2 linked regions of the Homo sapiens genome follow. The protein of the gene in region 2 purifies or fractionates together with the protein of the main gene of each other region. This does not show direct contact. Each region holds a gene or a part of one and is shown on either strand. Other genes may lie near its edges.

Region 1 (12,580 bases), on a different chromosome or scaffold from region 2:
CAAAGTCAGATTTAAGAAGAGTTCAGATTCTCAGGATAAACCAACAACATATTTTATAAGATGTTTTCCAAGTAAAAAAGTATTTCCTATAAGAAAATACAGTCAAAACATTACAAAAATGTATTTTCATTCATCTTTTATTATAAAGGTATAGCTCTTATAGAAAATTAGAAATACAAATATAAAAAAAAAGCATTTTCTATTACACAAACTTTGCAAAAAAAAAAAAAAAACCCAAACCAGCTGTCCGGCAGAATATCCCACTTTTTAAAATTTCAAATACATACACACACACATACATATATATGTATCTTATATATTATTTAATTTTTTATTATTTTTTGAGACAAGATCTCACTCTGTCACCCAGGCTGGAGTGGAGTGGCATGATCACTCACTACAGACTCAACATCCTGGGCTCAAGCGATCCTCCTATCTCAGCCTCCCAAGTAGCTAAGACTACAGGCATGCACCACCATACCCAGCTAATTTTTGTATTTTTATATTATTTAAATGAAATCATCTGGGCAACAAGTTGAAGACAGGGATAATATGTTTGAAATATGAAGTTTCTAGAAATCAGACACTTTTTAAATTTTTCTGTACTATGACTAGAATAATACCATTCATTAACTAATGATAAATAAATACTATTGGATGATTATTCAGATATGGCAACTACAGATCACTTTGTCATCATGGACACATAAAATAACACCCTGGTAAATTAGTGGTCAATTGGCCTTAGAGGGACCCCAGAGTCACTTAATATCTAAGGGCTGACTTTCAGACCACAGGTGTATAAACAGCTGAACTCTACTCCACTTTTGCTTTGGAAAAGCAGAATGCTGTAATTTTTTAGACTCAAAACTTCAGGCCAGGCACAGTGGCTCACACCTGTAATCCCAGCACTTTGGGACACCAAGGCGGGTGGATCATGAGGTCAGGAGATAGAGACCAGCCTGGCCAACATGGTGAAACCCCATCTCTAATAAAAATACAAAAATTAGCTGGGCATGGTGGCATGCACCTGTAGTCCCAGCTACTTGGGAGGCTGAGGCAAGAGAATAGCTTGAACCCGGGAGGCGGAGGTTGCAGTGAGCCAAGATTGCACTACTGCACTCCAGCTTGGTGACAGAGTGAGACTGTCTCAAAAAAAAAAAAAACAACTCTTCAGCCACAGATCTGATAGGTGATGCTACTACTACAACTCTTTTCTAAGGAATTTGAACTATCAAAAACTACAAAAACTCAATTTCTACAATGATGTTGATGATACAATAGAGGTAGCAGGTAACATTTCCTGACACTTACTATTTGCAAGGTACTGTTTTAAGTGCTTTTCACATAAGTTACCTCATCAACTCTCTTATCAACCCTAGGTATAGGCACTGTTACCTATATGCAGGTAATAGATAAAGACCTTGAGCCTTAAAAAATGTAAGTAACTTTCACATGGACCCTCAAGCAAGCACTGCAGCCAGAATTTGAATCCAGATCTGACTCCAGAGTCAGAACTCTGAATACCATGGTTCTTCTATATCGTATCTGCTACTTGCAATGGGGAAGATTTAGCCATAGCTTCTCTTCCTACAGACTGATGATCTTCAAAATCCCCCAAATTAAAAATATTATTTTGGATATGTGCAAGCAGTATGTTAAAACAGGTAATCAAGTCTATGAGAGCTGTAAGTGCCTACTGTTGAGAAGAAAAAACTACAATGAAAAGGATATTTTAAATATTTTTGTATGCTGCTGACATAACAAGAATACTCACTGTGATAAACCAATAGGAATTGACTCTATAAACCAACTTGGATAAGAAGCCAAGCTGATCCACTGGTGCCAGAACATGAAGGTGCAAGTGGGAAATGGAACAGAATGGTGGCATATGAAAACCCATCCTAAAATAGAAAGTAAAGAGATGATTGACAAACCAGTTCTAAAATAAAGTCATTTTTCAGGTGAAAACACATAAATTTTAATGAGATCCAAAATAAGTACCTAAGGTAAATAGACTGTCACAAATCTCATTAATGTTTCTCTTTATGCACTTCAGAGGATTCACACACTTCCTCTTCTTTTCATGTTGAAGTTCGTAGTAACATAAGCTCATCATCAAGGAAGGCCTTAACAGCATATTACGCCTCAATATAATCTTTATGAATTCTGAGTTGGCATAATGTCTTATCACTTCAGTCTTTATCATCGTAAGCTTTCATTCTCTTAAAATATGCTCTTGCAATGAATTTTTAAAAACATCACTGGACACTCAAGTAGTCGTGTTCCTTTATTCAATACATAGCCAGTAGATGGCACACTTTTTCCTTTAATAAAGTACTCAGACATTTCCCACCAAACCAACAATATTTCAGTAGTGAGATTAATTATGTCATCATAAAAAACTTTCGTCATCACCCAGGTTTCTTGTTTAATACTTAAAATAAGTTAGATGATAATGATAATTATGTGCTTCCTAAAAGATACACAAGAATTCCTTTAAATGGTTACAAAGTTTTTAAAATATGATTTAAACTCTTAAAAATAAGCTTACAAAAATTTTTGCAAGTCCACCTATGCTCAGCAGAGCAACACACACCTGTAACAATAATCAAAGCCTAGAAATATTTGCCTGTTCAAGGTATCAGTGAGTGGAAGTGTGGAAAGGAGGCATAGAAGTGCTATACTGCAGCAGTGATCCTCTGGGACTAGCAATGTGGAGTCAGATATGCAGTACATACTTTAAAATTTCCACCACCACCTAGAAGAGGAGACTAGGTTTTCCTTCTGCCAAACAGTCATATAATGTAGAATCAAATAATCTAGAAGCTTGAAGCAACTCAAAGGTTCACTCAATCTTTTCATCTTAAAGATGGAGAAGCCATGATCCAGAAAGTTTAAAATATTCCCAAGGTCCCAAAGTTAGACAGTCGTGGAGCTGGAGTTGAGACTCAGGGCTCTCAATTCTTTGTCCAGTGTTCATTCTTCTAATAAGTATCCTATGACTGTGAAGGAAATGTGTGGCTTCTGGCCAAAGGGTCTCAAACACCATTTGTTCCTTGTCATTATCACACTTGGTAATACTTAACAGTTTTTGGAGGATTTTTCACACAGAGAATCTCATTTGCACCTACCAGCAGGCAGAGCAGGTATTATCTTGGAGAGGCTAAATGGCATGTCTAAACTAATACAGACAGTGTACGTAGAGTACACCACAAGTAGCATGGATGGCATTAGAATTCAAGTCTATTCTGAATTCTAGGTCAAAAGTGTTAGAAGTAATCTCCATTATACCTGCTTGGGTCACAGAAGCAAAATTGGAAACCTTTTAAAAAGAAAAACATTACTTAGACAAATTAAAACATTTGAAAAGGCCCGGCGCAGTGGCTCACGCCTGTAATCCCAGCATTTTGAGAGGCCAAGGCGGGCGGATCACTTGATGTCAGGAGTTCGAGACCAGCCTGGCCAACATAGCAAAACCCTGTCTCTACTATAAGAAATACAAAAGCTAGCCAGGCATGGTGGCATGCACACACAATCCCAGCTACGTGGAAGGCTGAGGCAGGAGAATCACTTGAACTCCGGAGGCAGAGGTTGCAGTGAGCCAAGATCGCACCACTGCACTCCAGCCTGGGGGACAGTGCAAGACTCCGTCTCAAAAAAAAAAAAAAAAAAAAAAAAAAAAGTTGAAAAATTGAACATCATGTGCTTACGCCAGAGTTCAGCAGACAACAAATTCAAGTTAATTTCACGTTAGAATTATAATCATGTGTTTTTAAATCATATAAAATTTTTCTAAGAAAATTCAACTTGCATACAGTTTTATAGGAATGCCCATATTGAACAAAGAAAAGTAGATTTGCTGGGTGTGGTGACTCACACCTGTAATCCCAGAACTTGTGTGAGGCTGAGGCAGGAGAATCACTTGAGCCCAGGAGTTTGAGACAAGCCTGGGCAACATAGGGAGACCCTGTCTCTACCTAAAAAATTTTAAAATTAGCCGGGTGTGGCAGTACTTGCCTGTGGTCCCAGCTACTCTGGAGGCTGAGGTAGAAGGATACTCAGTCTGGGAGGTTGAGGCTGCAATGAGCCATGATCACACCACTGCACTCTAGCCTGGGCAACACAGTGAGATCCTATCTCAAAAATTTTTTTTTAAAAAGTAGACTTGTAACTATTTTACCTACCCACTGCCCATATAGACTTGTCTGTCCAAACTTCAAGTGGAAATTATTGGAAGATATTGAGACACAAGAGGAAGTTTTATTACATTTATACTACCAATGAACTATATTCTCACTTTCAGGAAAACTACATTTAAACCACAAACTGCCACCTCTGTTTCCATTTTCCATGGAGAAATGACATTTTGAAAAACGTCAATAATGTATAATATTGGTTTCCATCTGGAAGTATACACACCTCACATTCGTGAAGTCAGTGAAATTATTTCTTTCAAGAATGGTTTTTCCAACAGTTACCATGTTCTCAACTGTAAAACAGAAAAGACACAACATTACACTAGAGGAGACATTAAGGTCACAAATTGCCATTGATCTTCACTCTTGTCCTATCAAATGGGTAAACATTTAAAGACACATTCAGGCCAGGCACAGTGGCTCACCCCTGTAATCCCAACACTTTGGGAGGAGGATCACTTGAGCCTAGGAGTTTGAGACCAGCCTGGGCAAAAAGGTAAGACCTCGTCTCTAAAAAACATTTTTTAAAAAGTAGCTGGGTGGCCAGGCGCAGTGGCTCATGCCTGTAATCCCAGCACTTTGGGAGGCCGAGGCAGGCGGATCACGAGGTCAGGAGATCGAGACCATCCTGGCCAACATGGTGAAACCCCCATCTCAACTAAAATACAAAAAAAATTAGCCGGGCGTGGTGGTGCACACCTGTAGTCCCAGCTACTCGGGAGGCTGAGGCAAGAGAATCACTTGAACCTGGGAGGCAGAGATTGCAGTGAGCCGAGATTGAGCCACTGCACTCCAGCCTGGTGACAGAGCAAGAGTCTGTCTCAAAAAAAAAAAAAAAAAAAAAAAAAAGGTAGCCAGGCATGGTGGTGCACACCTATAGTCCTAGCTACTCGATACGTGGAGGCAGAAGGATTTCTTGAGCCCAGGAGGTCGAGGCTGCAGTGAGCTATGATTGTGCCACTGCACTCAGGTCTAGGTAACAGAGTGAGACCCTCTCTCAAAAATAAATAAATAAAATAAAAAATAAAGACATTCAGTAGCTTTAAGTCACTGAGAAGTTTGCTTATCAACAACTGAAATAAAGTTTCAAATTGAGCCTCAGTGCAACATCACTATCACAAAATCTCACAGATAAGTAGACTTTAGGACAGCTGGCTATTTAGGACATCTGATCATATGAGGACTAACTCTCATCAAGAAGACCAAGTAATTAAACAGAAATTGTTTGATTTAATAAGACAAGAAAACTTTGAATTTGTCTTTGAGCCCAAATTAAGGATATGGTATCCCTTCCAGTCAGCCTATCCTTGACTAGCCAAAAATTTGTATAATGACTCTGGCTTCCAAATTCCATCTCCTTTATCATCTTTCTTCTCTTGGTGTTTTATGGCCTTCAGGTGGGAATAAACCTGTCCACCAAAAAAATTTTGGTCACCTGGGATCTTCAAAGCACCATGCCAAATGTTAGGCCTCCATAGTTTCTAAATGGTGTAATCATGTATTTGAAAGACGAAGAAGTAAAAACATCTACAGAGGATAGCTGATATATTGAGACTTACAAAATCATTGTTAATGTTTACTTCTTTAAGTCAGGTTTGAGCTGGGAGACTGCCAGCCTTCCAAGACTAGGTCAGTACCATAGAGTCCAAAAAAAAGCTCCAAATTACTTCAAGCCAGACTATATCTTTTTTTGGAATTTTTTCTTTTTCTAATTTAATTATACTGTCTTTAGAGAACATATTTATAAGATTTCAATCATTTGATATGTATTGAGCTGTATTTTATTGCTCGGAATATGGTCAACTTTGGTGAACATATGCTTTTTAAAAAACATGTATGCTGTATTTAAGTGGAGTTCTGTAAATGTCAATTATAGTCATATTCCTTGATAGTGTTCTTGAACTCTTCCATATGCTTATTATTTCCTCAACTTTATCAATTATATAAAAATTATTAATTTGCAACAACTTTTAGTATGGAAATATTCAAATATAACACAAAAGCAAAGAGGAAAATGTAATGGAATCCCAAATACCTACCAGCTGCTTCAAAATTAGCAATATTTGATTTGCAACATTATAAAAACTAGTTATAACAGCCTCTATTCTCCACTTCTGCTGAATATAAATTGAAAAATTCCTAAAAAGCTAAAGTGTGAAACCCAAGAAATAACTACAAGAATGAAAATAAAAACTTTTAATAAGAAAGATGAAATGTTTCAATCAGGTAAATCTAAATTGGATCTAATTGTTATAAGCTCAAATGTACAGTACAGGGTACTGTAGTTATAAATCATATATGTTCTCAAATGTACTGATAGAACTTCAAATGACTAAGGAACTTAGCTGTATTCAGAATCGACAGTTTAAAAATTGTTAGTTAATTCACTAGCCTAAATATTAATGAACTACACATCAAGGTTTTCCATTAAAGTGGTTTCTTACCTCTTAAAAATCTAGCCCAATTGATCTATCATGTAGGCTACCTTAAAATATTGATCAAACTAATCCCAGAACCTCATGACAAAGCCTTTCCAGATTTCAGAAGTCCTAGCCAGAGCAATCAGGCAAGAGAAAGAAATAAAAGGCATCCAAATAGGAAAAGGAGTCAAACTATCTCTCTTCACCAACAATCTGAGTCCATACCTAGAAAACCCTGAAGACTCCACCAACAGGATCCTGGAACTGATAAACTACTTTAGTAAAGTTTCGGGATACAAATTCAATGTACAAAAATCAGTAGCATTTCCAAACACAACACTCAAACTGACAGTCTAAATCAAGAACACAATCCCATTTACAATAGCCACACACACACAAAAATACGTAGGAATACAGCTAGTCAAGGAGGTGAAAGATCTCTACGAGGAGAACTATAAAATGCTGCTGAAAGAAATCATAGATGATACAAACAAATGAAAAAACATTCTATGCTCGTGGACTGGAAGAATCAATATTGTTAAAAAGGCCATACTGCCCAAAGTAATCTATGGATTCAACACTACCAACATCATTTTTCACACAACTAGAGAAAACTATCCTAAAATTCATATGAAACCAAAAAACCCAAGTAGCCAAGACAATCCTAAGCAAAAAGAACAATGCTAGAGGCATCACGTTACCCAACTTCAAACTATACTATAAGTCTATATAACCAAAACAGCATGATAGTGGTACAAAAACAGACACACAGACCAACAGAACATAACAGAAAACCCAGAAATAAAGCCACATACCTGCAGCCATCTGATCTTCAACAAAGTTGACAAATATAAGAAATGGGAAAATACGCCATATTCAGTTAAATGGTGTTGAGATAGCTGGTTATCTATATGGAGAAGAATAAAACTGGACCCCTACCTTTCACCATATACAAATATTAACACAAGATGGATTAAAGATTTAAATGTAGGACCTCAAACTATAAGAATCCTAGAGGAAACCCTAGGAAACACCATTCTGGACATCAGCCTTGGGAAACAATTTATGACTAAGTCCTCAAGAGCAACGCAATAAAAACACAAATTGACAAGTAGGACCAAATTAAAGAGCCTCTGCACAGCAAAAGAAACTATCAACAGAGTAAATGGATAACCTACAGAATGGGAAAAAGTATTTGCAAACTATGCATCTGACAAAGGTGCAATATCCCGGATCTGTAAATAAATTATTAAACAATTAAACAACCAAAAATCACCATGAAACAATGGGCAAAAGACATAAACGGACACTTCTCAAAAGAAGACATACAAGAGGACAAAAAAATATGAAAAAAATGCTCCACATCACTAATCATCAGGAAATGCAAATCAAACCCACAATAAGATACTATTTCAACACCAATCAGAATGGCTATTTTTAAAAAGTAAAAAAATAACAGATGCTGGTAAGGCAGAAGAGAAAACATAACACTTACATGCTGTTGATGAGAATGTAAATTAGTTCAGCCACTGTGGAAAGCAGTTTGGAGATTTCTCAAAAAAATTAAAATAGAACTACCATTCGACCCAGCAATCCCATTACTGAGTATATATCCAAAAGAAAACAAATTATCCTACCAAAAAGACACATGCACTTGTATGTGAGTCACAGCACTATTCACAACAGCAAAGGCATGGAATCAACCTAGGTGCCCATCAGCAGTAGACTAGATAAAGAAGATGTGGTACATATATACCATGTAATACTATGCAGCTATAAAAAAGAATGAAGTCATCTCCTTTGCAGCAGCATGGATGCAGCTGGTGGCGATTATTCTAAATGAATTACACAGGAACAGAAAACCAAACACTCTGTGTTCCCACTTATAAGGAGAGGGTAAACACTGGGTACTCATGGACAAAAAGATGGCAACAATAGACACTGGGGACAACTAAAAGTGGGAGAGAGAAATGGGGGCAAGAGGTGAAAACCTAACTGTTGGGTACTATGCTCACTACCTGGGTCACAGATCATTTGTATCCCAAACCTCAGCACCACACAATATACCCACGTAATAAACCTGCTCATGTACCATCAAATCTAAAATAAAAGTTTTATCTAAATCTTCAAATCTAAACCGTCAAATCTAAAATAAAAAATTATCTTTTTTAAAGGCAGATTTGAAGTAAGCTTAGAAATGTCTTAGAAAATGATAGGTGACAAGCCACAGAAGGCATGAGTAGGAAAATGAGCAATCATCCTTAATAGACAAGATTCAGAATCTCCTTTTCAGAAGCTAGAAGTTCATCACTAAAAACTCATAATTAAATTTTGGTGCTAATTCATCTTCACAGGATACTATAAGGCAGGTACCAACATGATCTCACCATAAGGCAATATGAGCTCATTTGTCATATCGTAACTTGTTTGTTTATAATTTTTCATAGCACCTTTCATTTCAGAGTCAAGAAAGTCCATCATTTAAAAAGTCATAGAAATAGGCCAGGCACGGTGGCTCACACCTGTAATCCCAGCACTTTGGGAGGCCTAGGTGGGTGGATCACCTGAGGTCAGGAGTTCAAGACCAGCCTGGCCAACATGGTGAAACTCCGTCTCTACTAAAAATACAAAAATTAGCCAGACATTGTGGCGCATGCCTGTAAACCCAGCTACTTGGAAGGCTGAGGCAGGAGAATTACTTGAACCTAGGAGGCAGAGGCCGCAGTGAGCCGAGATTGCACCACCGCACTCCAGCCTGGGTGACTGAACAAGATTCTGTCTCAAAAAAAAAAAAAAAAAAAAAAAGTCATAAAAATATATTATCTTTTGGACAGTTTAAATGTTAAATAGCATGATGTCTGGTTTATGCTTCACAATCACTGTGGGAAAAGGTTAATGTATTTTTTAAAATTGTCCATGAGTTCCTAAATGTGGAGGCTGCATAATGAATACACGAGTATTATACTATTTTTTAATGAATTTAAAATTCTTTATAGTGAAAATTTCAAAAAGTCATAATGCTCCTTTTTCACAGTACTTAACTAGACTTTTTCTTTTTAATCTTCACTGCCATCACTGATACCAACTGAAAATGATATAAACATGAAGAATACTGCCATCATCTTACCCAGTTCTACTTGATCTTTCCTTAGAGTTCTGCAGTTTCCAATATGCTTCTTTGGCACCACAAGATAATGATGAGTTGCTGCTGGTTTGATATCTTTGAAGCAAATTAGGTCCTCATTCTAAAGGAAAAAACATTTGTTAGTGAATTTTTAAAAAGAATTTCTTAATGCTGTTCTGGCATGACTTAAATATCATTAATCTCAGTCTGACAGGGAAATGATACTTATGTTACACCTAACCCCCACTGGGCAATTTTATAATTACGCATTAAGTTCATAACACTTCCTTCATGAGATGCTTATTGATTCCAGAGAATAAAAAAGACACATAAAATCAATTTTGGGGAAACAATTATGAGTAAAGTTCACTAAAATTTCATTACCAATAATCTCAGAGTTTATTATTTCATTACACATTTCTCTATCCCTACCCTAAAGTTTTTTACCTTGACACATATTTTTAAAGGTTTGGCTACAGAATCACAACAAGATAGATAAATTCCTTTCTACATTTAATTTTTTTCCCAACGTAGCATTTTCCTCAATTATAAAAAGAACACCAGCTAGCATTTACATGTCCAGGGATTGCATTTTTTAAACACTTTTTAAAGCAATTATATCCAAAGACTTTTTTACTTGCCACTTTACAGTATTAAAAAGACTGAAATGCTGAAACAAATTCCAGTATATTGTACTAATTTATGGGACCACTACACTACATGTATGGCATCAGTTTTCTGGTTTACATTACCCCACACAGTAATCTACAGAAAAAAGAAAAGGAAAGGAAGAGCGTGTTTCAACCTATTAACATTTGAATTTCGAACTTTCCTAAAAGAAAATTTATATTCACTAAATAACCATATTAAATATCTGATAGTGAATATCTTATTCAGTATCTTATACTGATTTTAATTTTTACTTTACATTAAATAAAAATTAATTAAAATCAGTGTAAGCAGAGTTTCCCTTAGAAAAAATCCATGAATGCAATGCTGCTCAATAGTTCTCTGTTCCAAGAGCCAAAATTCAATTCAAACAAGTGCGTCATATCCATTCCAGTAATCCTGGTTATCCTAAGATAACAAACATGATAATTATATATCAATTTTAATCCATTTCTATCATTTTTATTATGGTTTTTCTGTCTAGTATTAAAATTAAAAATTGATATCCATGGAATGTTTTAGAAAAGGATAAGGTCAAGGACTACACTGTTTTTTATTGTTTAAAATTTTCCTTTTTTCCTTTCTTTCAGACAGGGTCTCTCTCTGTAGCCCAGGCTGGAATGCAGTGGCACAATAATGGCTCACTGCAGCCTCGATCTCCTGAGCTCAGTTGATCCTCCCACCTCAGCCTCCCAAGTAGCTGGGATGCACATCACCATGCCAGGCTATATATATATATTTGTAGAGATGGAGTCTCCCTATGTTATCCAGGCAGGTCTCAAACTCCTGGACTCAAGCGATCCTCCTGCCTCAGTCTCCCAAAGTGCTGGGATTACCATTATTTCTTTAATACTTCCAGCTCAGAAACAATTAAAATTGGGGGTTAAATCTAGTACAAGAAAATTGCCACAATCCTACTTCCCAGATTGATTCATAACACAATAATGTTATATATCTTTATTTCCCCTCAATTACGGCATTAATTTTTTAAAATCCAGAGGTAATTCTGGTACAGAATACAACCTGGTTAGTTTGAGATGATGTAGCTGTACTCTACCTCACAGCAGGAATGACACTTCTTTAGATTAACAGAACTAGCAAGTGCCAGTCTAATGGCTAGCAGGAGAAAAGCTAAAGCGGTTCCTAAAAATCTGCTGTCTCATACTGCATAACTTAGCGATAAGAATGAACCAAAATGCTTAGTTTTGTCTTCCAACCTCTATATTGAAAGGTTTTGGTTACTAACTCTCATATATCAATAATTTATTTTCCCAATCTTAATTAATTACACAATCCCAATCCTAATAAAAACTACCAATCAACATGACTCTTATCACCAGGAATAGATAAAATTCCTCTCAAAAATATAGAAACTTGATGTTTTAGTTAGCCTACACCCTGACTAAATTAGATTTCCATGAAGCTTTCTGAAATATTGAAACTAGCTCTGATGTCACCCTTTGTCCCATTCCTACTGCTGATCCAGGCATCATTTACATGGTTCATCTTAAGAAAAATGATCCTCCTATTCCATAGATACGCTGGCAAAAATATGAAATGATTGTGTGTGTGTGTGTGTGTGTGTGTGTGTGTGTGTGTGTATAAAACTATTCTTTGCAGCATTATTCATGATAGCAAAAGACTGAAAAATAAACCAAACATTCATAATGCAGCTGGGCGACTGGTTTAATAAATTATGGCAAATCCACACAATGGAGTATTGTGTGGCTCTAAAAAGGAATGAGGAAGATCTTCATATACATACGAAATTATTTCTAAGATATATTCAAGTTTTTTTAAAAAACAGCAAGGAGCAGGAGAGTGGTTAAGCTATCTTTTGTGTGTAAGAAAGAAGAATACAAATACAGACATGTGAATACCTATTTACTCACAATGGAAGGATAAACAAAAAAGTTTTTAAAAGTTTCTTATGGAGAAAGAGACATGGTAGAGATGACAAGAGAATGGATGCTAGATTTCTCCAAATGTACCTTGCTTTACAATTTTGACTCTGAAAACATGTAAATATTTAACATGTATACATCACACTTCACAAGAAAAAAAAGCAATCCCTAAAAATAAAAAACAAACAATAAACCTAACTGGATGTCATGTTGGTAGCATAATCATTCCATTCAAAGAAGAGAATGATTTCAAGTGACTTAAAG
Region 2 (12,580 bases):
TAAAACAGCAAAAAAGTACACAAATTCACTGTCAGAGTTGGAGATCTCAACACCTCTCTCTAACTGATAAAACAAGTAGGCAAAAAATATCAACTCTCTCAACCGGTATTACCTAATTAATATTTTCGAACACTCTACTCAACAACAGCAGAACACATTCTTCTCAAGTACACATGGAACATATACCAAAATAGATCATATTCTGGAACATACAACAAATTTCAGTCACTTTTTAAAAATTCAAGTAATACAAAGCATATTTCCTGACCACAATTGAGTTAAATTAGAACTCAGTAACAGAAAGATCTCTAGAAAATCCTCAGATATTTGGAAACTATATTACACACTTCTATCTAACCCATATATCAAAGAAGAAATAAAAAGGAAATTAGAAAGTATTTTAAAGTGAATGAAAATGAAATAAAACATATCAGATTTTGTGGGATGCCACTAAAGCAATACTTAGGTGGAAGTTCATAGCACCAAATGTCTCAATATGATAAAATGAAAGTTCTCAAATCAATAATTTCCACTTCTCCCTTTAGAAACTAGAAAAACAGAAAATTACAACATAAGCAGAAAAAAAGTAGAAAGAATAGAAATCAACATGCAAATCAATGAAATACAAAACAAAATAATACAGAAAAAAAGGCAATAAAACCAAAAGTTAGGTATCTGAGAAGATGAATAAAATTGATAAACTTCCAGCCACACTGATCAGGAAAAAAAAGAAATACAGAAATACATGAATTACCAATATCAGGAATCACATCATGTCACTAGATTCTATAGACATGAAAAAGATAATAAGGGACTATTACGAAGAACTTTATGCCAATAAAGTCAGCAACTTAGATAAAATGGACAAATTCCTTAAAAGACAAAAAATACCACAGCTGACTCAAGAAGAAATGGATAACCTAAATAGCTCCATCTCTTTGAAAGAAAAGGAAACTGTAGTTAAAAGTCTTCTCATAAAGAAAGGTCCAGGCTTGGATGAATTCTACCAAACAAGGAAGAAATACTACCAATTCTATGCAAAATCCTCCAAAAAATCCAAGAGGAAAGAATACTTCCCAATTCATTCTATGAGACCAAAACCTCACAAAGAAATCACAAAACAGCTGGAAGATAAAACGAAAGAGAAGTAACAAGAATTAAATACTTCATAAATATCTTAACAAGAAATGTGCAAAACTAGCATGAAGAAAATTCTGAAACACTCCTCAAAGACATAAAAGTATTTTTAAACAAACTGAAAGATGTTCCACATTCTTGGATGGAACAATTCAACAACATAGATGTTACTATACCTCAGGTTAATATGTGGAATTGAATAATTCTGATAAAAATGCCAACAAACGCGAGAAAACCTAGCAATCTTCCTGAGCCAAAAAGCAAGGAAGACTCAAAGACAAAGAGGATATCTACAGGACACAGAAGCAGCCCAAAGCAGATCCCACCGACCAAGTAACTTCAAAAAGAAATGTCTATAACTGACTATAAATTATTAAATAAATAAATATCCAAGAGTCCAAAGTGACATTAAACAAGGGTGGGGGCGAGGAGGAAAGAAGAAGAGCTCACATTTCTTCCACCACAGGAGATGACTAGTGCCTCAGTGAAACCATGCTCCAGAGTTAAAGAAGCTAATGACTAACAGAAATGCTTGAGTTTGCAAGATGGCAGATAAGAAAAGAGGCAACTTACTAAAATAATAAAACGCCCTCCACTTGTAAGATAAAACTGGCTGAAATCAGTCGGAACCAATATGGCCAACTGGAGTTTTCACAGATGGAGTTTTCTGACATCACAGCCTGAATTCCCACCACATGTTTCATATTAACTCCTCCTGAATTTGCAAGTGACCTACGAGGGCATGAAGAGGTAACTGCGCCATGCCTGAGGACTTTCCAGACCTCCCTTTCCTTCCACCGATCACCTACTAATCCCAGAATCCACTCCCTACACCTTTTCTAATAAAATTACTGCATTAAAGCCAGCATGAGGAGACAGATTTGAGCTGGACTCCTGTCTCCTTATCAGTGGGCCAGCCATAAAAAGCTTTTCCTTTCTCAAAAACCTGCTGTCACAGTATTGGGTTCCAGCACATTAGGCAGCAAGCCCCTTGTGCTCTGTAACATCAATTTCTTCATCTGAAAATTGGCAGTTAAAAGGAAAGAATTAAGCATTTGCTCTGCCTTTATAGAAGTTCACCCAGGTGATAAGAGAAAGTTCTTTACAAAATCTCAGTTGATAAATATAGAAATAGTGACATAATTAGAAAATCAACATTTTTAAACAAAATATTTGATTTAGGCACATATCATTAATGAGTGTCAAGTCCACTAGATGAAAGACTTTGGAGGACCAGGATATTTGGAAAAGAATACTTTTAATAATGAAGATATCTAGTGGTCACCATCTTAACCAGATGATAAAACCAGGCATTACTAATAATGGGACAACCTGACATTATATACCTCTCAATATAATGCAAAATGAAGTACATAACTTCCCTTTTAAAATATTTTTACCAGAAATGTTAAACTTGAATCTAAGCAAGTCCTTACATGAAACTCCAAGTTTACAGGCTACAGTAGAATGAAACCAAAAGGAAATAATCAGATAAGTGAGAATGGGGCATTCTCCACTCCCTCGTTTTTCCTGCTTGGCGTAAGCTCCCTCCTTTCCTCTGTCTGCCCCAGCCTCTGTCCTGGCTTTGGTAGGTGTGGCAAACAGTGATGCAGTACGTAGAGGAGAAAGGCTGGTTTCTCTTTACTCTCATCCTGGAGCGGCACGGGCCCTGCTGGCAAATTTACCACATTCCTTTAAGAAAGAAGGGAAGAAGTCTGGGGAAAGCAGAGAGCATGGAAAAATAATAAGGAAGCATCAGTAGAGAAGATGAGTAGGGGCTACCCCCAGAAGGTGGCATTGAGAGTGATGGTGGTGAAGGAGACAGAGCCAGTTCTGAAGAGACTCGGTCCAGTGAGGACTTTCACAAGCCCTGGGATGACACACGGGTCTGGGAGGATACTGGTGCCAAAAGATTATAAAGTGACCAGTGAGGGCAATTCTTAACTCGGACATCAAAATTGGTTCCCTCACCTCAACCTTTAATTTCATAATGAAATAAAAACTCAATCAATTTCACCTCTCTTGGTGAAGAGATTGCGAAATGTACCACATAGGTAGAAAACCCCACCGCTGTGCAGATCAACATGGAGTTGGTAGCCGTGCAGTCCATACTCGGGGCTATCATCCAAAAAGGGGCTATGTGGAGGCAGTTCATAGGGGCTGAAAAGCAAAACAAAAGAAACATACAAATTTGTCAACACCAGGGATAAAATTCTTGGTTTGAAAATACTTTTTAAAAAATTACCATCTGTATCAAAGCACTACCTCCTACAAATGAAACTCCATAGGATTCCCTATAATCTTCAATACTGTGAACTTAAAAGACTGCTCAATGTTACTTTTACCAACTTCTATAAAAACAGGCAATGATGTGAGTTCTGTAGGCAGCCACCGCCCAGCACGGGTGCACATGTTTCTGCAGCTGATCCCAGCATGGCCACTCTATAAAAGCCACTCTGCCCTCCGTGTTGTTCTCAGTGTCCAGGGGACAAAAGTGCTCAGCAGGAAAAGGCACTGAATACCGATCTGCAGGACAAACACCCAGGCAGACCCAAAGCCAAGACAAAGTTTTATTCAACAAGAAAAACATGACTACGTAAGGTGACAAACTCAAAAATACTCAGGAGCTTCTCAGGTAATTAAAAAAAAAAAAAATGAGTAAGGGAGTCTAAGTCCACAGGAAAAGGGTGAGAGCTGTAGTGAAATGGGAAGCCTGTGCGCCACCTAAAGACGCGCAAATTCATTAAAAGACACACACTGTCCAGACCGGACAGAATCATCCGCAGGCCAGGTTCAGCCCAAGGGCCATGAGTCTACATGCCTTACAAGATGTGAAAATTCACATAAGAGCAAGAACTTGAAGGACAGTAGTGGCATCTTGAAGTAATCAAGCTATCCTACCCATACAAATAACAACCTACTAGGTACAAATTCCTTGACCCAGAATAAATAAAGCAAATATGTACTCGTGAATAATCCAATTATTTTAGCGACAGCTAATTGTGCCTGTTGGTTTGTGTTTACTGATTAAAAACAGAATATCTCTGCAGCTATTCTCAGGATATTAAGATGGCATCAACTTCTAATACTTTATATTTACTGTACAAAAATTCAACACACCCACATATAAATACATACATAGTAGCCGAGCCTAATGTGCTCCTCTCCACAAGGTGATGAAAATGAAGATTTGCCATAACAAAAGCCAGTTCTTCCTCCTTCTGAAAAGTTAATTGAGAAGAATACATATTTCAACCAAAATGCTTACATTTTTCACAAGATCATTGTGAAGATCACAGCACATTCATCTTGCAGATAGAGGCACTTTCTTACAAACATAAGATCACCACAGTGCTAATGCATTATTACTGCTAATATGTTACTACTATCTAATAAGACTTATATTTCATATTGACAGCAGGACCACAATTCACCCAAATATGCAGAGCACACAGGACCAAAAGAACTCACAGCCTAGAGCTTGTGAAATATCAAAAGATATATATGATAGTTGTGAAACTATGCAGTTAGTTCCAGGCTGTTTCAAATTCCTTTCAAAGACTTTCACAGATACCAGATTAATTCTACAAATACTGAACTTTACTGACACAATGTTCCTCTTGCAAGTAACTGCTTGATTTGGCCAACGTGGTGGGAATGATTAGATTCAACTTCTTCACTTGTCCATGAGGTTGAATAGCAGAAAATGCGACTATTTGGGGACTGACCTCCATTTCTCCCCAGATTCACAGCTGACACTGATGGGCATAGGTGACCCCCAAATGGTAAATTTGAAGGTGCCACTCTCCAGTAGCCAGGCAGAGGACAATCGAAGCCACCAGAGTGCTCACAACTCTGCAACCAACAAAGCTGGATGCATGCGAGTCACCGAATGCAGAGCAGGCAAGCTGCGGTCTCGCCCACAAGCCACCTTCACACAGAAAGGGGAGGAGGGAAAGAAAAAGTGACGGCCACAGTTGGCTAAGGAAAAGGGATGAGGATGGTGTTGTCTGAAGCTAGGGTCTTAATCCCGTCTAGTCATTGTAAACTAATGCATAACGCCAACTCAGAAACAGATTTGTGAACTACTATCTTAAAATATCAGCCAGACCTGGTGAAACGAGAAATCTTATGCAGAGAGAAAGGATAACATCGTAGACAGCTGACCCTGAAGAGCAGATTTCACTCAATGCCGCACCTACAGGATCAGAAACAGGCTTGGGAGACAAGCGTGCTGAACACATAGTAAGGGAAATGTTGTCAGAGAAAGAGCATGAAAGGAAGAGAAGAAGGAACGTGGACTGATTGGAAGTGGGAAAGCCACATGACATGAAAGGAATAACATGAAGGAAAACATGAAGGCAGGAAGAGGTTGTTGTCTATGATAGCAGAACAGCAGAACAACAGATAGCAGAGTTGTCTATCATAGCAGAACAGCACAGCAGCCTCGGTGGAACAGAGAGGGCCATGTTAGCTTGAAAAAATGAAGTTGGTGAGATGGTAAAATGGATTGCAGTTAGTGAAAAGCTTAAAGGATTTTACATTTGAAGTCATACATAATGGTAAGTAAATGTGGTATTGTGATGGGGAAATGACACAGTACATACAGGGACTCAAGTCTTACCTTCCACACTCCCACCAGGAGGCCAGGGTGCAGGCAGAAGATCCGAATGAGTCTGTCACAGCCAATCATGGTAGATATGGTCAAATGACTCAGATTGTACTTTGCAATTAAAGAATGCCATCGGAGTCTTTGAACGTTATGCCAAGGAAAGGAGAGAGAGAAGTGAGCTTTCCTGTCCATAGTGTTGTCAATTCTCTTTAGTGTATCACAAATGTGTTTGAAGAGCATGTTAATGATGTGCTCAAACTAAGTGGCATGTTGGCAGGGTGAGGACACAAATGAATAAAAGGCAAAATGGATACATTCAGATTTCCAAGCCAACTAGGTATTTCTTCCCCTCCGTCTTGCTCTTACTGTCAACTCAATGACCCAGCCGGGAGGAAGTTGAAGGACCAGGAAAGTGATGAAGTGGCAGCATTGTCTCCTGTTCTATTCCCTCCAAATCCAGCACAATACAATCTAAAGTAGACTCTCAATGTGTATTCCTAGTCAAGTGAGTAAAACAACACAGAAGCAAAGATACACTATTTCAAGTGACATAAGAACGGGTGGTCTCAGGAGATGGCTGGAAAGCAGATGGGCCTTTCACAGTTATCATCAAGGATAACTCAGAGATAGTGAAAGTTGACACATCAGAAATAAACTTAAACTAAATCACCAGTGTTTTCATAAAGGAGACACTAACACAGCATTAGACTGAAATCCCTGAGGAGCTGGGGCCACATCTCATTCAACAGTTGGTGCCCAGCACCTCAGGCACAAGCCAGCAGGCAATAGGAATTCAAAGGTACATTAAATAAATAAGTTAAAAAGGACACCAGCTGCAGTCCAGCTTCAAAGTGGAAGGGACTGTGAAGCATCAAAACCAGATCCGCAGCTGCCACATGACCCTAGTCCCATGTTCAGCTCTTCAAAATAACTTCTTGTGCAGAGAACAACAACTGGGTAAGGAGAGACGGTCGGTGAACGTGTGTGATGTAGAAATTAGAAATAAACCCAGCATATGCAGAATACACTTGGAGGAGGATAAATGCAGGGTCAGGAACCTCACTGTGGAGTCAGAGAAACCTGAGGTAAAACCTTAGCTTCAACCTACAGTGACTTTGCGACTATCACAGGCTGGTTCTTTGTGTATGAAATCACCAGCCTGCTGAGTGGGGACAAGAGCACACGGCATGGGGCAGGTGCTCAATAAATCGCAGTCCCTGCTAGTATCATTAATGTGGATAGAGGAGGCTGGGTGGGGATGTGAGAAACCTTCTTCTCTGAAAATCTGGCTGTAGAGGTACTTATTAAATAGACTCTGGGAATGTGCTGAGTCCTCATGTGCTTGGCCTTACAGCCACAGACACAGAAACTAAGGCTGACGTTTCCCCAGCAGTTCTCACAAATTTAGGGTGGGACAGCACAAGCTGCAGAGCAGAAAGTGCTGGCAAGGAAGAAAATTTGGAGTCTGACTAGAAAGGTATAAATTACAGGGAAATCCAGATTACATCAATGAGGCTTTCACTGTTGTTGAAAAACTTCTCATAGAGGAAACAAAAAAGACCCAAATAAAAATCACAAAGGCTCTTTTTGGCTGTCACACAGATGCGTACAAGGATTTATATTCCTGCACAATGAAAGCATTCACTTACAAACTTGCAATAAAAGTGCCGATCAAAACAAATCCTAAAAAACACTTTTAGTTTTGTTTATCACAGTTGATCAAAGGCTGGCTGGAGTCCATGGAAGTTTCACAGAAATAAATTACATCAAATGAATTTTCCCAATGAATTCTAGCATTGGGCACTATGTAGTATCTATTACTTCTGACCTTGATGACCATTTCAGGGAAATACTGTCTTTAACTGAGCTTTATAATTCAACATTATCCATTTAACTTAATTCTTCAGGATCATTTGAATTAATGTTAGCCAGTTTGTCCTAATATCTGTAAGTAACATTTCATGATATGCCAAGTAACATATTGTTTAGCAAAACTAGTACAGTTTGTGGACTTGTTCTCCAAACGTAATTTTGAAATGCATAAAGCCTAATTACTACATTAGAAAAAGCTGGCTTCCTTCATGATCCCGTATGAAATTTCAAAGATTTATCCAAATAAAAGTACCATTTTTTAAAAGGTAACTGTTTCCAAAGTATCTTCAGTAATATATTTAGGAAAAATAATTCATTTTTCATCATAACATTAAGAATATTTTTAGAGTACAATAAAACCTGGATTTGCCAGCACCAAGAGGTCTGAATAGTCTTACATTCAGAGCATGGGAAGAGAGCTCAGTAATCACTAAAACAATGCTCAAAGAGCAGGCGCCATGGAGAGGAGCCAAAAACAAGGTCCCCAGTTACAGAGCTGCAAAAAAAAAAAAAAGTGTCTGTATCCAGGGAAACCATGAAAGAACCCTGTCCCTCCATAGAGATGGCAGGCACTAATGTCAGATATCACAGTATCCTCCATAGCAAGGACAGACAGGAGAGAAACCAATGGGTGGAACTGCAGCACGCAAGGATGGTAAGAAAACGACATGGTAAATACTCCTGAAAAGTCAAAGAATACTGAGACAGTGAAGGAGATGGGAGGGCAGGAAACCAACGCAGGAGAAGGCAGGTATTACCTTTATATTTGCAATATATCTTATATAAAGCTATGTTAGCTTGCTCCAGAGATGAGGATGCTATGCATGCCATAATCCAGCTTTTAGGAGGAAGCAATCAATGATGAAAAAGACAGCCCGAGAGAGCTGCTCAGAAAGGCAGAATGCCAGCCTCATAGTGAGTATGGACTCAGTGCAAAGCCACCTGACAACAGAATAGTAAAGGGCTCACTAAGCATTACCCATGTGCTGCACACTTAGCTGATCTACGCATTTTATAGTGATATCTTTTGATCGATCTTATTCATTGCAGTCATATATGCTAAATACTATGCCAGTATAACGATCATTCCATTTCATAGAGGAGAGAATGGAGACACAGAAAGAGTAAGTTACTTGCACAAGATCACATATCTAGTAAGTTCAACAGAAGGCAGACAAAATAACTCATAATTATGACTTGGTTTCCTCATATTTAGACTATGATTAGTATACCATTTACTAAAGAAGGAAGATAACATATATCTTTCTGTTAAGATGGTTAAAATGAAAAACCTCAAAGGTTAGCCATCAATCATCCAGGAAATTTTGTTAACTAGAACATCATTCTTTACCATTAAAGACAACCCCAAGATACGAGGAAGTTAAATTTAGACCTAATCAGAAATGTGATAAAATGCACTCTTTTCCTCTTCTGCATTAATGCAGAATGTACATTTAATATGTGATAAAATTAAAAAACGCTGCTCTTATTTTTTAATTACAAAAGTAATGCCAACTAATATTTACATATAAGATGCTCTCACTCAACAGTTCTGCTGATTGGTACTTACCTATGTTTGGTGGGAGTTTTATACCAGTCGGTAAAAACTGGTGTCATGCCACATAAATCTAAGGTTGACAATGATGCTAGGCATGGCCATTTTTTGCCATACCATATAACAGTAACTGATGTGTCATTTATGGAAAGATCAACATGCTCCATGATATATTCTTTTCCACCTTTTTCTTTCAGTATAATTGCCCAACCTAAACCAAATATTCTGGAGAAAGAAAAAAAAACTAACAATGTTTGCCTCATTGAAAAAAAAAAAATGCTAAAGGCAATTTCATGTATCTTCTCTAAAGCATCTAGTTCCTTAAAAGCCAAAGTCAAAATTCTCAGAATGTGCCCAGTATAATTTTCACTTCAACAATAGTACTCTCTTTAGACTTTTTCTCCTCACCTAACACCCACTGAACATCCATGATTTTCCAGGTACTGGCAATATATAAATAAGACAAAGGTTCTGCCCAGAAAAGAGACCTTGAACATTCTTATTGTACTATAGCAGATAAGTAGGTTACTTCTGCTTTTCATTAAAACTTTAGGCTACTTACTAGTTATCCCTCTGTCTCCGCAAGAAATTGGTTCTAGGAACCCCATGATACCAAAATCTGTGGACGTTCAAGTCCCTTATATAAATGGCATAGTATGTGCATATAACCTATGCACCTCCTCCCGTATTCTTTAAATCATCTTGAGATTACTTATAATACCTAATACAATGTAAATGCTGTGCAAACTGTTGTTATTATGTATAATGTACTGGTTTTATTTGTATTCTTTTTTATACTGTTATTATTGTTTCAAGTTCCCCCCCACTAATATTTCTGATCTGCAGTTGGTTGAATCAGCAGATGCAGAAGGCTATGCGGAATAGGAAAATGATACATATTTTATAGATGCACAAAACACACAAAAATACTAGAGACAGTCCCACACAATCTAAACTGCACATACGTCCTACGTACACGATACTTTGAGCTGATGCCATCATTCTCTTTTGGAACACACTGCGTACCTGAGGGCCTCTTTGGTCTTAACTGGAAGGCCTGTGTAAGGGTTGACAGGTTTGAGAATGTCAGCTAGTGCGGCTTTTACAGATGCTATTTGTTTTGTGATATATTCTTTCTTCCAATAACCAGCTTCTTTATCCTGAACTGACAGAAAGCTCATAGACATAGCTATCTTCTCTACTGAATTAAATTTCCAATTTGATCTTGCAGGTGAAAAAGCAGTTGAGTAGATTCCGATCCAAATAAAACTGGAGGGAAAAGAGGAAATATGTTAACTAAGAGACACTGTCACCTACCTTAGTCATAATATATCAAATTAGAGATGCATATTTTCAAATAATCCAATTCCATGAATAAGCCAAGCTGAATATTTACAGTTGAACGTTCATCTGTTAAAGTGAATTGCAGTTTGAGATTTAGTGTTTTAAATTCAACACCACCAAAAACACATTTTAAAAAAAGGAAAAGCCCATTTCCCAGGGTCAGGTCTCAAGTGAGTAATCTCACGTTATTTAGGATCATCCAAACGACTGCCCTCTTATACCAGTAATGGAATAGGAAATATATTATTTAAACATAACAGAAAGTATATGTAGTATGATTCTTGTTTTTAAATACATACATGCTTTTAAAAAGATCAGAAAGGATGTATGTACACACACCAAGAAATTTCAATAGGGAACAATGGAATTGAACACTCTTTTTGCTATTTTTTAACTTTCAACAAGGAATACGCTTTCACAAAGAGAAAAAAAGTGAAGGTTTTTAATGGTAACAACTAAACAATAGTTAACATTAAATTTTGTCAACACTTACTATGTGTCAAGCATCGTTTAACCACTTTATGTATTATACATGACTCATTTATTCCTCAGAAAGAAACCAGGAGGTGCTGGTATTCCTGTCCCCACTGCATAGATGCTGTAACTGAGGCTCAGATGCAAGGTGAGCTGGCCCAGGTCTGTGCACTCAAGTGTATAGTGAAGCTGGGATCGGAACCAGAGCTCACACTCTTATCACCTGGGTTTCACTGCCTCTTCAATCACAAAGAAATGGGTCAAAGAAACTGAATAAGCTCCCCAAATTCAGAGAGCCAATAAGCCTCAATGTTGGAATTCAAATTCAGCTCTGACTCAAAGTCTGTTCCTTCCACTCATCTCTACTAAGAGGGCAGGAGAAGCCCCACGAGTGGTGGCAGTGAGCTGGCCTGAGAGCTCCTCCCTCTCAGCCAGTACTCTCCACCAGGAAAGAGAAGGAAGACACAGGGAAAACTGAGGCAGCGGTTAAAATCAATTCCTTATCTGAAAGGCAAACTTTGCATTTTAAACATTAATGATTTGCTCATTTAGGTCTCCACATTACTACTCAGAGCAGCATGGGATGAAGCAGTCAACGGCCTGGAGGCTGCAAGGAAAAAGCGATTCCCCCACAGAGCAGTGGTCCTGAACTGCAGCAGGACCCCTGGGGATAACTGGGTGCTCTGGGGAGGCAGAGCTATTTCCTTAACCACAGCAGAAAAGGACCATTTCTCAAACACGTGACTTTGGAACACCACCTCCTTGACTCAGACATTACATGGACTTCCCAACAAATGCAAGCTCACATACAGTCAGACCCTGGTTGAATTCTCTTCCTAGTGTGGGTTTCTCAGTCATTTCTCACTCTGCAAAATCACTTCATGCCTAGCTTTTATATTAAAGTGTTTGTGTTTTCAATTCAGAAATTTCTAGACTTTCCTATGTAAGCGGACAGATGCAATGCGATGATGAGTTGAGTACATTTAAGTAAAGCTGAAACTGTTTCACCAAAATCCTTTGAATAGACACTTTTAAAACTCCCTTTGCATAAAAGCTTGCTTGTGTTTTCTTCACATTTATTTTATTCAGCATCTCACCCTATGTAAGTATTCCTTTAGCAGGACCTTTATGGAGCCTTGAATTCCTCACATCAGCACTATCTAAACAACCTCTGATACTATTTTTACATGTGTTAGCACTTACCAACTGCAAAAACAAACACTGCCGCAGAGATGGGAATCACAGCATAAACTCCACATGCAGTGAGTAACCATAACCACAACTAACATTCGTATGATGAACTATGTTCACATACATGATCATATATTACTTACCGTAAGTGAACCTAAGTGAAAACATTTTATATTGCAGATGGTTCCCCTTGATTTTTTATAATATACAAATGTTAAGGTTCAGATACCTTTCACAGTCTCCAAACACATTTACTTCTTGATCCCCAAATGCTCCATCCTGTTAGAAGGCCTAGTCAGATTCGAGGACGAGGGCATATTTATCCAACAGAACTACCAACAGGCTCAGGGAAACTCAAACAAGTTGTTTAGAAAATGGGGCCAATTTAATGTTCA

What was found.
Region 1: the proteins of FBXO15 (region 2) and HINT3 purify together in Homo sapiens (affinity purification with mass spectrometry; 3 studies listed by BioGRID and IntAct, with this or other methods). This does not show direct contact.

Annotation. Positions count from the first base shown.
Region 1 is NC_000006.12:125,964,171-125,976,750, reverse strand, and holds part of HINT3 (adenosine 5'-monophosphoramidase HINT3), read right to left. Parts: intron 9,865-12,580; coding exon 9,747-9,864; intron 4,493-9,746; coding exon 4,423-4,492; intron 1,905-4,422; coding exon 1,778-1,904; intron 1-1,777. UniProt on the Homo sapiens protein: Exhibits adenosine 5'-monophosphoramidase activity, hydrolyzing purine nucleotide phosphoramidates with a single phosphate group such as adenosine 5'monophosphoramidate (AMP-NH2) to yield AMP and NH2.
Region 2 is NC_000018.10:74,120,214-74,132,793, forward strand, and holds part of FBXO15 (F-box only protein 15), read right to left. Parts: intron 10,446-12,580; coding exon 10,203-10,445; intron 9,402-10,202; coding exon 9,192-9,401; intron 8,564-9,191; coding exon of another isoform or gene 8,440-8,563; exon of another isoform or gene 5,896-8,439; intron 5,889-5,895; coding exon 5,762-5,888; intron 4,359-5,761; coding exon 4,276-4,358; intron 3,298-4,275; coding exon 3,155-3,297; intron 2,807-3,154; coding exon of another isoform or gene 2,625-2,806; exon of another isoform or gene 2,379-2,624; intron 1-2,378. UniProt on the Homo sapiens protein: Substrate-recognition component of the SCF (SKP1-CUL1-F-box protein)-type E3 ubiquitin ligase complex.